Linked DNA regions of Homo sapiens. The protein of the gene in region 1 interacts with the protein of each later gene in a biochemical or structural test. Each region holds a gene or a part of one and is shown on either strand. Other genes may lie near its edges.

Evidence for each region. Proteins that work in one complex are often made in the same cells at the same time.
Region 2: the proteins of SIPA1L2 (region 1) and CACNA1D interact in a test that uses a peptide from one of them, tested with the Homo sapiens proteins (one large-scale study listed by IntAct).
Region 3: the proteins of SIPA1L2 (region 1) and ACVR2A interact in a test that uses a peptide from one of them, tested with the Homo sapiens proteins (one large-scale study listed by IntAct).
Region 4: the proteins of SIPA1L2 (region 1) and SLC16A7 interact in a test that uses a peptide from one of them, tested with the Homo sapiens proteins (one large-scale study listed by IntAct).

The regions. Positions count from the first base shown.
Region 1 is NC_000001.11:232,397,465-232,400,299, forward strand, and holds the end of SIPA1L2 (signal-induced proliferation-associated 1-like protein 2), read right to left. Parts: intron 1,810-2,835; coding exon 1,663-1,809; 3' UTR 501-1,662; downstream 1-500.
Region 2 is NC_000003.12:53,802,111-53,805,610, forward strand, and holds part of CACNA1D (voltage-dependent L-type calcium channel subunit alpha-1D), read left to right. Parts: intron 1-36; coding exon 37-63; intron 64-1,312; coding exon 1,313-1,462; intron 1,463-2,872; coding exon 2,873-3,036; intron 3,037-3,500. UniProt on the Homo sapiens protein: Voltage-sensitive calcium channels (VSCC) mediate the entry of calcium ions into excitable cells and are also involved in a variety of calcium-dependent processes, including muscle contraction, hormone or neurotransmitter release, gene expression, cell motility, cell division and cell death.
Region 3 is NC_000002.12:147,848,029-147,851,528, forward strand, and holds part of ACVR2A (activin receptor type-2A isoform 1 precursor), read left to right. Parts: intron 1-3,500. UniProt on the Homo sapiens protein: On ligand binding, forms a receptor complex consisting of two type II and two type I transmembrane serine/threonine kinases.
Region 4 is NC_000012.12:59,784,529-59,788,028, forward strand, and holds part of SLC16A7 (monocarboxylate transporter 2), read left to right. Parts: 3' UTR 1-3,500. UniProt on the Homo sapiens protein: Proton-coupled monocarboxylate symporter. Catalyzes the rapid transport across the plasma membrane of monocarboxylates such as L-lactate, pyruvate and ketone bodies, acetoacetate, beta-hydroxybutyrate and acetate.

The DNA.
Region 1 (2,835 bases):
CCCGAGTAGCTGGGATTACAGGCATGTGCCACCATGCCCGGCTAATTTTGTACTTTTAGTAGAGACAGGGTTTCTCCATGTTGGTCAGGCTGGTCTTGAACTCCTAACCTCAGGTGATCCACCCGCCTTGGCCTCTCAAAGTGCTGGCAACACCAAAGTGTTATTTTATTTTATTTTTTTAAAGGCAGTCTTGCGTAAATTACTTCACTTGACCCACAGTTCATGTGGTTGTAAATGGGAACCCCACCTCCTACCTATGAAGGATAGATACCATTGGGGTTAAATGAGATGGATGAAAAGTTCAGAGAATAGTGTCCGCCACACAGCAGCTATTAAAAACTGCTAGGTACTCCTTCCTGAAATCGATCTGGGATTCTATGAGAAAGGAGCTGAACAGTATTTAATACAAATCAAGGTTCTAAATGACCTGAAATAAATTCACATACAGTCAGACTGTTGACATGTTAGATCACAAAAAATCTAGTCACCTGACAACACCATTTCTTATGTGGACTTCTTTTAAACATTTATTAAAAAAGCAAAATGTATGTTCATCTCAAATCTAACAGTTAAAAATGGTAAAGCAATACAAACAATGTGTTACTAGCAGCATCCAGTCGTTAGAATCTCTCACCCTGCTTCTCGGTCTGATCTGTGCAAGCTCAGTCTCTTCTGAGCCTGCAGCTACCTCCATCCCTCATCGTAGTGCAGGCCAAACCAAATTTTATAAAATTAACAATTTAAGGTTAAATAAGCTTAAATAAGGGTGTTAAATACAAGACACTTCATCAAAGCTTCTGTACAAAGATAAACAAATCTGGCATTGTACAAGTGGTTCCGCTGGCTCACAGCACACAGGGAAGTTCTAGTGAGTAAGCAGATTCACTCTCATTTCTTTCCAGCAGAGCAACTATACAAAAGTGAACTAAGAGTTGAAGTGACTACTGACCACTCGGTGAGCCATTTACAAGGCATATGTATCTTTTTTTTGTTTTTAATCAGAACACTGTTAATATTCAGGCACCATTTGTTCCTGCAAATAAATAAGTCTCTAAGGTAACTGCATCTGAACTAGTGTTAAACACAACAGTGCTTTTTTTTTTTTTTAATCCCCCCACAAAGCTTTTCCAACTATGTACTATGCCTCCTTTCTTATTGCTATGGTAATGTGGCTGTGGAAATAAAACTACTGTACATCCAAAAAAATAGAGCACCTTTAACATTAAAGTATATGTCTGATTATTTGTTCTCATGTTTATTTTACAATACTAAAGCCCAAACTATGGTAAATTGCTTTACATCTCTACCAGGTCACCTGATATACAGGAAATAAAACTCAACTATCTTCCCTCTTGAGGTAAGCCCAAGCCAGAGCACTGTTTTAGCAGAGTCTAAAAGAAAAAGGTCTCAACTGTCGCCAGGGTTTACATTCATCTTCACACCAGGAGTTACATTCATTCATCTTCACATCGGCGCTGCTCTCTGCCGTGGTTACCGAGAAAGAGTCGAGGCTCCCTATCCTGCTGTGGTGAATGGTGCTACACAGAATGGAACAGCAAAAACATCTACGATTGGTTGAAAGCACACAGAAAAACCACATGTTTGTGACTTCAAAGGGACAAGGGGCATTTCCCAGTGGTCCCTTGATGAGGTGCGGATTGGCTAAGATTTTTTGTCGATGGTGGTGAAAAACCATTCTGTGAATTTCCGCAGCTGAGCTGTCGCGGTCTGGGACTCCTCCTGCAGTCTCATGTTGTCCTGTCTCAGGTGCTGCACTTCTGCTTGGAGAACGGCCTTGTCTTGTTTTTCCTGGTCAGAGCAGAAATAAACTGAGTCATGGAGACTGATCGATACATTCATTCCTCCTAAGCTGGGCTACGAGAATCTTTGATTCTTATTTTTACTTATGTACTTTTTGAGGGGAGAAGGGGTGACTTTCTTTAGTGAGGGGACTTTTCTGATCCTGATTCCTGCTGATGACAAAGGGATGGGAATGAACACTCCACACACCCTGTTCTTTCATCCCACTCTGCTCCCATGGGGTGCTAAGATAGCCTTTATATAGGAAGGGTGTTCATCATAGTTTATATTACCCTCTATCCAAAAAAGGGAGACTACAGGGAGGTTAAAGGTAATACCCTTTTGACAAATGCACAAAACTTTCTAAGTAGAAAATTGGAATTAGCAGAGCTGTTACATATGTTTATAATAAAATATGTACTTAGGTCTTTCATTCCATCAAGCTTTCCTGCTATACTATATTTCCATAATGACCCTTAAAATCTGCTATTAAAAACTGTGTAAAAATAATCAAGACTTTCAGAAGAATCACATCTGGAGTTTCCAACATGTAGCAATAAAAAAATGTATAGCAGCAGTTTCAGTTCCCCCCCTGCTGAAAGGGATGCCTTGCCCTAAATGAATAGAGGGGTCACTGTCAGATTGTAATAATCGGTATTTCTGTAACGGGATCTAACTCAACCACTACAGCCACCACATGCCACCCCCAGCACTGTGCAGGAGCATTGAGTGAGGTGAGTGGACGCCCCCACCCTTGGCATATCTGGTCCTGCCCTCAAGGCTTCCTCGTTTCCTGAGCCCTTCCAAGGCCCTCCTCAATACCACCTGCCTGGTCACTGGCCCAAAAGACACTGGTCCTCAGAGGAGGCCTGAATCAGAGCTGACCACTCACTTTGCTGTAAGGAGCAACTGCAGCCCACCCTGGATAGACTCACTTCACTCTAAGAAGCAGCTGCAGCCCACCCTGGATACTGACTCTCCCCGGACATTCCTCACCACGACTCTCAGTCCCAAGACAGTCTGAGTCCCACAGCT
Region 2 (3,500 bases), on another chromosome or scaffold:
TCTCCCTCCTTCCCATGTTATGCCTTTCCTGGATAGAACCCGCTATTATGAAACTTACATTAGGTATGTGCTCATTACCTGTTTTTGTGTTAAATACTGTGATGGTATGTTACCAGCTGGCCTCTCTGAGTGCTGAAGAATGAGAAACACTTCTTTGAGCCAGCCTATTAAAGGTTATCATAATTCATGGCTGTGGACTCAGAGGTCAGAGGTTGTTGCTTCTAAGCAAAGGCACCTTCAGATCCATATCTCTGTCGACTCTGTTGCCATCCAAGGACTGGTGTCCACACACAAGGTGCACCCCATGGGCTGGCTCCTGCAGGCCTCGCGATGGCACTAGGAGCATCCATTGTGCATTTACAGGGGCCTCAGCCTGTGTGGCTGGCAGCTCCGGCTGCTCTCTGGGGTCAAGCTTCTTGTGGGTGCTTTGCAGCATGACCCAAACCTCCTGAAGGTCAGGAATGGGATCTTGTCATTTTCCCTGTAGCCCTCAAGATATGTGTAGTATATTCCACTCCACATGTATTGACCTGAGTTGAATTGTGGGCGGAATGCCCATTTTGTTGGGGGCCAAGGGAGGATGGGTCTTCCTGTGTCATGTTATGAAGTGAAGTCGGGAGCCATGTGGGCCCAAGTTGGGTGCAAGAAAGTGGAGAAGTCAGAGGAAGTGCCATCCTTCCTTTGGAGAGAGGATTGACATCACCACGTCCTTCTCTGAGGACTGAGGCCAGGATGAGCCGGGTTTCAGGGAGACTTACCACATTCCTGGGGCAGGGCAGCCTTTGGAAACATGGTGGACATGTTCTGTGACAGTTTCCCCTGTGGCACTGTATCCAGAACTCACTCGACCTTCCTGATTTGATACAGCAGGAGGTCAGTGGCCAGGAAGCTCCTTTGTTCCAGGTTCTGAAGTCACACTGGGCTGGAGCTGGGGGACTAGAAGGAGAGGGAGGGATCAGAGCAGATGCCCTGGGAACCCAGGGTCTTTTTCCCTAGGTCCATTTTTTTGTTCTGTTCTCCAAATTGCACCTATTCCTTTGGCTCCAAGGCCTCTGGACACAATGGTTTGACACCAACATTGTGCAGGGCACTGAGAGAGACCCTATCCTGGCCCGCAGGCACACCACACACACAGACACACACACGGTGCTGTTGCCAGAAGCCGGAACAGTCCAGTGCTGCCTGAGGCAGGTGCGCGCTGGGAGAAGCCAGGAGCACCCGGGCAGGGTTGCCGGCCACAGGCAGAGGTGCAGCTGCAGCAGGAATTATCTGCCGCCTGCCCAGGTTCTCAGATCCTCTCTCCCAACTGCAGGTCCGACTCAGGAGATGAACAGCTCCCAACTATTTGCCGGGAAGACCCAGAGATACATGGCTATTTCAGGGACCCCCACTGCTTGGGGGAGCAGGAGTATTTCAGTAGTGAGGAATGCTACGAGGATGACAGCTCGCCCACCTGGAGCAGGTGAGCTGCTCTGGCTCCTGTGGAGAGCGGGAGGCCGCCCTGCCCTGGTGCTCGGCCCACTCCGGAAGCCAGGGCCACCGGCAGCTGCACTTGGGCTTCCCCTAAAAAGCAAAATGGGAGCAGAAACTCCAGGCCAGAGGGAGAGTGGAGCTGGAGAAAGAGAGCCGCAGAGAGGCAGGGTGAGGGCTATTCTTTCAGACCTGTTGCCTTATTTCCACTAGGGGCCTCTGAGGCCTTTTAGTGAAGGCTTGGGAAATGGGAGATGGGCCTGCTTCGTGGCTGGGTTAATGCCTTTCCACCACCCGTCTTTGGAGAGATCAGTTTTTGCTGAATTAACACTTGGAGCTCTGGCGGCCCCAGGGCTCTGTGTGGACGGCGGCTTGGCCAGCCTGGAGCTGGGCCAGGTCCTCATGCACAGCACCTGCCTCCTGCCACTTCAAGGGGTCTCTCGGGGAGATGAAGAAATGAGGGGTCACTCAGCAGAGGGGTCCATCTTGCTTCTGTCCTACAGAAAGAATGTTTGTTAGTACAATGGGCACTCTGCTTTAGGAGGCGTAGCAGGCGGCACAGGCGGATGAAAATCGCCCTCCACCCTCTTCTCTGAACCGCACCTCACTGTGACCAGGGGCCCAGTGAAGTGGAAGTGGAATGGCAGTGAGGTGGCTTCTGGCATCTGAGCCACAGCCTGACCCTCACCCTCTGCTCCCGCAGCCCTTCCCCGTGCCTCTCTCAAATGCCTGACTTCTGAAACCACTGACTCTGAGCCAGATGAACTCGTGTTCCCTTCTCTAGGGCTTTTGCTCACACTGTGGCCCCTGCTTGGATGCCCTCACTCCGTCTGCTGGCCTCATCCCCCCTGTCGAGGGCCTGCTCTAGGGCCTTGCTTTTTATTTCCATGACTGGAATTGAAATCCCTCCCCCAACCCCCAGAAAAGAAAACCTCACGAACCGCATGAGTTCCTCTCTTCCAGCACTGGCCCTTTCCAGCTCGCATTTGATTTCTGTGTGCTCATGGCATTTTCTAAGCCCATTGAGGGTGGGGCTCATGCTTCATGCATCTTGGTGTCCTTGGTGCCCAGCACCTGGCAGAGGGAAGGCACTCAGGAGAGGGGCTCTCACGGAGGAAATGAGTGGGTGAGAGCCTGGCTCACAGGACATCTGCGATCCACATTTGCCCTGGAGCTGAGGGATCAAAACTGCCAGCACATCCCTCAGCACAGGCCTCCAGTCCTGTAATGGCCCTTGGTCTCCATCTGGAATCTTCCATGAAACTGAGGCCAGCCTTGTTCTCAGCCAATCCTACTGTGTCCAAGGGAGGAGGCGGGGAGAGGAGTATGGATGTCAGTCTGGCAGGGTTGAGTGACAGAGCTTGTTACCTAGAACCTTACTGCCCTCCTCTCTGACCTCCAGGCAAAACTATGGCTACTACAGCAGATACCCAGGCAGAAACATCGACTCTGAGAGGCCCCGAGGCTACCATCATCCCCAAGGATTCTTGGAGGACGATGACTCGCCCGTTTGCTATGATTCACGGAGATCTCCAAGGAGACGCCTACTACCTCCCACCCCAGCATGTGAGGCCAGATTTTTTGTTTTGGGTGGAACCTCCCGGGGAACAGTGTACCTCTCCCCCAACCCCCGCTCTGGGGGCCGGTGATGGATGTGTGCTGCCAGGTCAGGATCCTTAGTCCTCAAGACCAGCCCCCAGCCAGAGAGTGTGTCTGCTTTCCTTCCTTTCTCATCCATATCTCACGTGATAGAGCTCTAGCCTCTTCAGTGCTATGCTTGACTCTCTTTGAGAAGAGAGAGGCTGTGGGGCCCTAAGATTGCACGCACACATCTGGTAAGGGGTGTTTTGCATACATAGCATTGTCTTTGAACCTGGGACCATCCTGAGAGGGAGGCAAACCACACACATGCTTTTGCTGTTGTCAGCCCTGCTGCACTCTGTGATGGGGTGACTGAGCCCCCAAAGGGGAAGAGTGGGCTCAAGTGCAGAGCTGGCTGTGCCGCAGGCCTGTCTTGCAAAACCCCATGC
Region 3 (3,500 bases), on another chromosome or scaffold:
TGGAAATATGGTAATTATGTTTTCTTCAGTTCAGCTAGGCAGTACTGTGTATGTGTGAATGTATGTGTGGTTGGAGGGGGAGTTAGCATTACAGAGAATCTTTTGGGATTCTTTTGAACTTTGATTAACAAGTGATGGATGATAAATACTTTGTTTTCTAAAAGGCAGAATCTCTTATAAATGGTGTCTGTGGTCAAATTCAAATATAATACATTGAAACATGGAGACTAGAAACAAAATGAAACAAAATTCTCCCTCCATTCATTTTCTATTTTTTTTTCCTGTTTATGATCTAAGCCAACAGTTCTCAAGCTGGGGTGAGTCCCCCTCCCTACTTCCCCAGATCCCCATCCATGGGACATTTGGAGACATTTTTGGTTGTCACAACAGGGGACGGGGTGTGCTACTGGCATCTAGTTGGGTAGAGGGCAGGGATGCTTCTAATCGTCCTAAAATACATGGTACAGCCTTCCACAACAAAGAGTTAGCTGGCTCAATATGTCAGTAGTGTAGAGGTCAAAAAACCCTGTTCTAAGAAAACCAAATACCACATGTTCCTATAAGTAGGAGCAAAATGATGAGAAAACATGAAAACAAAGAACAGAACAGCAGACACTGGGGTCTACTCAAGGATGGAGGGTGGGAGGAGGTAGATGAGCAGAAAAGATAACTATTGGGTACTGGACTTAATACCTGGGTAATGAAGTAATCTGCACAGCAAACCCCATTATACGAGTTTACCCATGTAACAGACCTTCACATGTACCCCCAAACCTAAAATACAAATTAAAAAAAAAGGAAAAACTCAGTTCTAAACTCTTAAATTTTAAAAGCAGTAGTTTATTAGTAAAAGGGCTCTGCTCTCTTCCCCCTAAAGTTAGTAATCTAAATTTTACAAGTACATGGTATTGATGATCTCCAGGTAACGTTGTATTGAAAGATTTTTATCTTTTCATTATCTTTTAAATTAGAATATGATTAAATTAGAGAAACAGACTATAGATACGCACATTCTTTCATCCTTGATGAAATGCTTGAGAATTCACCAGTATAGTATAATATTTTATACTATAATAAAATATTCCAATGACTTATGGATAAACTCTCCTATCACCGATTTTGATAGAGTGCTCATGAAGACTGCATGTTCCTGGACATAATGAATGATTGGTTAAGGTATCAAGTTTAATTATATTTGCTTTAGATCCAGGATTTTCTTTGCCATGATATGATCTTTAAGGATATTTGCCTTTATTTTTACTGACATCATTGGGCTGCCTTATGGCGGTATTCGTGTGTGTGTGTAACATGTTGCCTGAAATATGTTCACTATTACATGTTCCCTGAATAGTTTCAAGGTAGAAATTCTGTTTTTTTAAAAAAGATATTTCTTTTGTCTAGCTAACTTTAATTTCAAGAAACTTTTAACCTAATCTCTTAATTACATAATTATCTTGAGAATCACTAGCTGGGTTTTGGTTACCGTTAGACTAATTCATGATACAGTAAGTAATATTTTATGATCTATTGCAGATCGTTTCCCTTTTTAAGGCTAAATCTTGACCATAATTAATAAAATGCTTACCTTGTTTTGAACTCTGGTTTTAAGGGAGTTAACCTAGCCAACCAAGATAAGAATTACAGTGAAACTCTTAGCAAATTAAGGAGCATTATACCATAGAGAGGAAAATTCTGAAGTCATTCCCACAAATGGTGTCCAAATGAGCCTCACAGTGTCTTTGTAACACACCTCTCCATACCCTTCTCTCTGATACTGACATTTTCGCCTTTTGGGTCCACCAGACTCACTGTTCTTAAGAGAAGCACAACTAAACCAAATGAGATTTTAGTAATCTCTAAATTGTTTCTTTAGATTCCAAGACTTTATTTTGTTGCATTTTGACTTTTTAAAGTGCTACTATGATTTTCTCATCTTTGATATTTCATGAGTCCAATGATTTAAATTTGTGTTTTCATGGTCTGTTAAGTTGCCAGTTGCCATGTTGTCTCAGATTATAGGTAAGGTTGGCAACATTTGATACTAGGGGTCACTGGTATGCCTTAGCTTTTTGCTCACTGCTCTGTAACTCATTGTTTTTTCCATTCCCTTTCATTATTGTTCCCTTTCCATTTTCCTCCCTTCTTTGTCTACTCCCTTTTCTTCCCCTGACCCTTCTGTACTTCCTTATACTGCTTGCTTGTGGAACCCAGTTGTGGCTTAGCATCATGGGTGACTCCAGAGGGCTTACCCGTAGTTTTAATGAAAACAGATTGAATTTAGAATGCTTGAGAATTGACCAGATAGTCTTTTCCACTGTTTTTTCATTTACTGGTTTCTGGACTACCTCGCACACCCTCTTGGGAATAGTGTTACTCTCTTAGAATCAAATGGCTTGAACTTTAGATTGCTCTTATTCTCTTTTTTAATATTCAGGTTTTCCTTAACTCTTTGCTGCTTCAGAAAAAGTTTCGCTCATCTTATTATTCATTTATCATCTCTGTTTAAGCCAAAATTTGACTAGAACCAAGAGTATATTTATTGCTGCTGATAGGACCACATTAGACTTCCTCTGTGGTAGATTTAATTCTGTTAGATTGTAAAATAGTCATGTCTAGACAGAACATTGATTTCAAATTGACTATTGAACATGAAAATTCCAGGAATAGTGTATAGAGGAAGGAGGAGGAGGAGGAGAAATCAAGAAGGTAAGAAAACTACTGTAGATAGCAAGTGACTTTCTGTCATTCTCCACCTAGATTTCTTGTTAGTCACTTTTGTATACCCAGTGCATCTAGAGGTCAGGCTTTGTTTTAATAAAGGGACTTAAAGGAAATATGTTTTTGTCTCTGAGATTGGATTTTTTGAACTGTTAGAGTGGTGGACCTAAGGGAAAGAATTGGAAACTTCATATGGATAGTGATCAAGAATGTGGTCGTAGAGGTTGGTAGACTTGAGCTGTGGTGTCAGTGCTGCCAGTATCTAGCTTATGTATCATTTTCTGTTACTTGATTATTGTAGCACTTTTCTAGCTAAGATTCACCAGTTCCCTATCACTACTTCCTTTTCTTTCTAGTCCATCTGCATAGCTGCTGGAGTGATCTTATTAAAAAATAAATCTGAATATGTTACCCTTGCTTAAAACCTTTCACTGACTGTGAGTCACCTTTAGCATAGAATCTAAAGTCTTAGAATGTCATAAAAGGTCCTTCATCGTTTGGTTCCTGCCTATTTTTTCTAACCTCTTGGTATTGGTTAAGAGTATAGACTCTGGATATAGACCTAATTGGTTTAAATCTTGGTTTCATAACTTAACCTTGGTCAAGTTACTTCACCTTTGTGTGCCTCAGTTTTCTCATCTACACAATGGGGGGATATTAATAGTGCCTACCTCAGAGAGTGGTTTGAATATTAAATGCTAGTTATTCTGCTGCAGCTTCTCCTCAGCCTGAGTACTATATTCCATCCATACAGACTTGACTTGCAGTTTCTTAAATGTGTA
Region 4 (3,500 bases), on another chromosome or scaffold:
TAATACAACTTACCCTACACCGTAGCTTATTTTTCAAGTTTCTCTGAACATCTTTGTTGTCATTCACCTCTTTGTCTATTTGTTCTGTAGAGAAAACAAGTGTCATTGCTTTTGTCTTCTCCATCTAGACTTTTGCAGTCCTTAGACTATAGTTCTCCTTAGCTCTATTCAAATAGTGCACTTGCAAGGCGCTGCATTCTTCTCAAAGTCAGCCATGATGCACATATTTATAATTACATACACATATAATTGAATATGATTTTAGAGTCTTGAAAAACTGATCTTCTTTGGCACTATCCTGAATGTTTCTGATTTTCTTAAAGTGCCTGACAATATTGAGTAACAAAGCTTACCATCACCACATTGCACCATTATGTATTATTCTGTCTCCATCAATGCAGTGACATCACTGATACATCATACCAACAAGATTTCTAACCACAACCATTCAGAGCACTAATTAGCATCTATATTGAGAATATAAGATTAATATTACAAACTTGACTTTACTCATCTCTCTTTAAGATTTTGATTTCTGCACAACCATATGCAGAACTCATGTTTGAGAAGGCACTTAAAAGCTGAAAGGCCCAATTATCAGTAATTATAATGCTTGCATGATCAAAATTACAAATTATCTTTGTTGATACAATTAAAAATGAGTAATTTTCTGAGCTTATGTCACTTTTTTATAGTTCTGATTTTCTCTTCTTTCCTATCAGTTGTTTGTACACTGGAGATTTTAGCTCTTTACAGGGTGCTACAATCTGGTTTATTTTAGTCTTCTCTCCTCTACTGCTTTTTCTTCACTTTAATTCATTTATGTGCAAATCAGGGAAGAATTGCTGTAGTATTGAGAATGGTCATTTTAAAAGTCTCTACCTTAAGAGCAAAATTAATATTGCAAAATGAATTTTTGATTTTACAGAAGCATATGGGAATTTAGATCAAATTACATCTCCCATCCCAATCTCCTGCTTCTTCATCATCTCCTAAATGTTTTCCTTTCTATGTTTTTATAATATCTAGGTAAAACTTGTTTAGCATTTTTTATTTAATTATGGACATATTTAGTATGGACTTTTGTTTCTTTGGTATAGTTAGTTACACTTGTTTGCATGATCTACATGTTTTTCAGTCTCCATATATACTTGTTAATAAGGTGAGCAATATTCAGGAATATTTCAGTAGGCAATTAATGATCATAAATTTATTCACATTTCAGTAAATATTTTTCACATGATCAAACAGGATTTTTTGTTTCTTTTTAATTTAAATATGGCAAAATAAGCTAGAGAATCTCAGTGTGAAAACACTGATACTGAACATTCTATTAAAATAGAATAAGTTCGTGTAGGGACATGGATGAAATTAGAAATCATCATTCTCAGTAAACTATCGCAAGAACAAAAAACCAAACACCGCATATTCTCACTCATAGGTGGGAACTGAACAATGAGAACACATGGACACAGGAAGGGGAACATCACACTCTGGGGACTGTGGTGGGGTCGGGGGAGGGGGGAGGGATAGCATTGGGAGATATACCTAATGCTAGGTGACGAGTTAGTGGGTGCAGCGCACCAGCATGGCACATGTATACATATGTAACTAACCTGCACATTGTGCACATGTACCCTAAAACTTAAAGTATAATAATAATAAATAAAATAAAATAAAATAATAAAAATAAAAATAAAATAGAATAAGTTGATAAAAGCTCCTCTGTTCAGAAAAACAAAAGAATGGCATTTTATCTCACATAAATTTAGGATGAAATTTTAAAACATTCTTTTGACTAAGACTTTAATTCTTATATGCATCTAAAATAAATGTTTTGAGTTAGACTCAGTTTATATAGCTTCCTCGTTAGAGTACACATTTTTTTTCTCATCCTCCGAATCTCAAGAGTACATATTTCTGACAAGCTTTTCAATGGTACGATGGATTTTATTTTTCTATCATCAACTTTCTATATTTAACTAAAGCATTAGTATTTCTAGATTTAGTGAAATAGCAAATATGAATTAAAATATTTATTTCTAAACATTAGATCTAATTGTATTTTGATTTGTTTTGATATATTTATGTCTCAGAAGATATGTTTAATGAATTCATTTCATCCTCTCAACCCTCAGTTTTGATAGGTATCCACATTTTTACCATATAAAACTAGACTGGATTAAGGATTTTGCCTAAACCTATACCAATACTCTGAATAAATGCAGGGTTGGAGATAGAATTCAGGTCTTTTAACTTCTAACACACTTTTTTCTCCATTGCACTACAGAAGCCGTAAGGTCATAATGATGATCTTTGTAGAGTAAATAAAATATTTTCCTAGAAATATATATAACAACCCTACTTGATAGTTTATAGCCCAAATGAATATATTTTTCCAATCATGGTTTGCAAAATCATGTTTGCAAACTTACTTTGAAGACTATTTCCTGATTGCCACGGCAGATAATTCGTGGCAAATCAGAAATAATATTTAGTGAGATTAATTATTTTGCACAATATATGTTGTTATAGCAATATCAAAATCATTTAAAACATCAATATTGTATTAATAGAAAACATGTCAATATCTCATTAATTCCTTTTTTATTTTATGTTCCTTTTTATTTTAGAAGCAGTGTTCATTTTTTTCTGAAGTAGAACGCCAGAGCACAGAACACACAGTTCAAGTTTAAATTATTAAATTGTATGCAAGAAATTATTGCCATAGCATAGTCTTGAGGAGAACACCTCTACAGTATTTCTTGATCTAAGAACCTGAACATATGTTAATGAAATTATTAGAGTAAGTTCTATCTCAAAAATTTCTTATTTTATGAATGTTTTCTTCACCTAATAAACAATACTAAAATCCATAACAGCTGTCTGGCAACAGTGTAATTAGAGCTTCTTTTATGTTAGAGATTCCATCTACCTCTGCATCTTATCTAGCTAGATACAGTCTTTCTAAACTTTCTCCTTTATTCCCATGTAGAGAACAAACAAAAATCACACCTAAATTAAAGATCTGTGGTGAAGGGGAAGAGGGGTTGCTATTAGGAGTTTTCCCGGTAAAACTGTAAAAACAGTAATCTGCATTCAGTATTTGTTTGCCTAGTTCATCAAGATATTTACCCTAAAAACACATTTTAATAAAAATTTGGGTAAACTCATGTATCGCAGTAAAATCTTTTATGAATTGGGTGGGCCCTAAAAACATCTGTAGTACGTGATGTGTTTGGTTAGATTCAGCCAAACCGACACCCGTATGCTAAGACTGCATTGTCATTCTGACAGGAGGCAGGCCTCAGTAGTTGCAGTGAGTGCATTTACTAATATAAGGATCCTTCTTTGTAGTGACAACAAAAATGAGATTGTAACTTAATCAAATATGAGTCAGATATAGTAATTCCTGATATTGCAGATGAAAGAGCAGGGTCTTTTCAAGTGCTTGCTACAACTGACTAAATTTGAAGCTTTTTATGTAAAAGTTCTTCTCC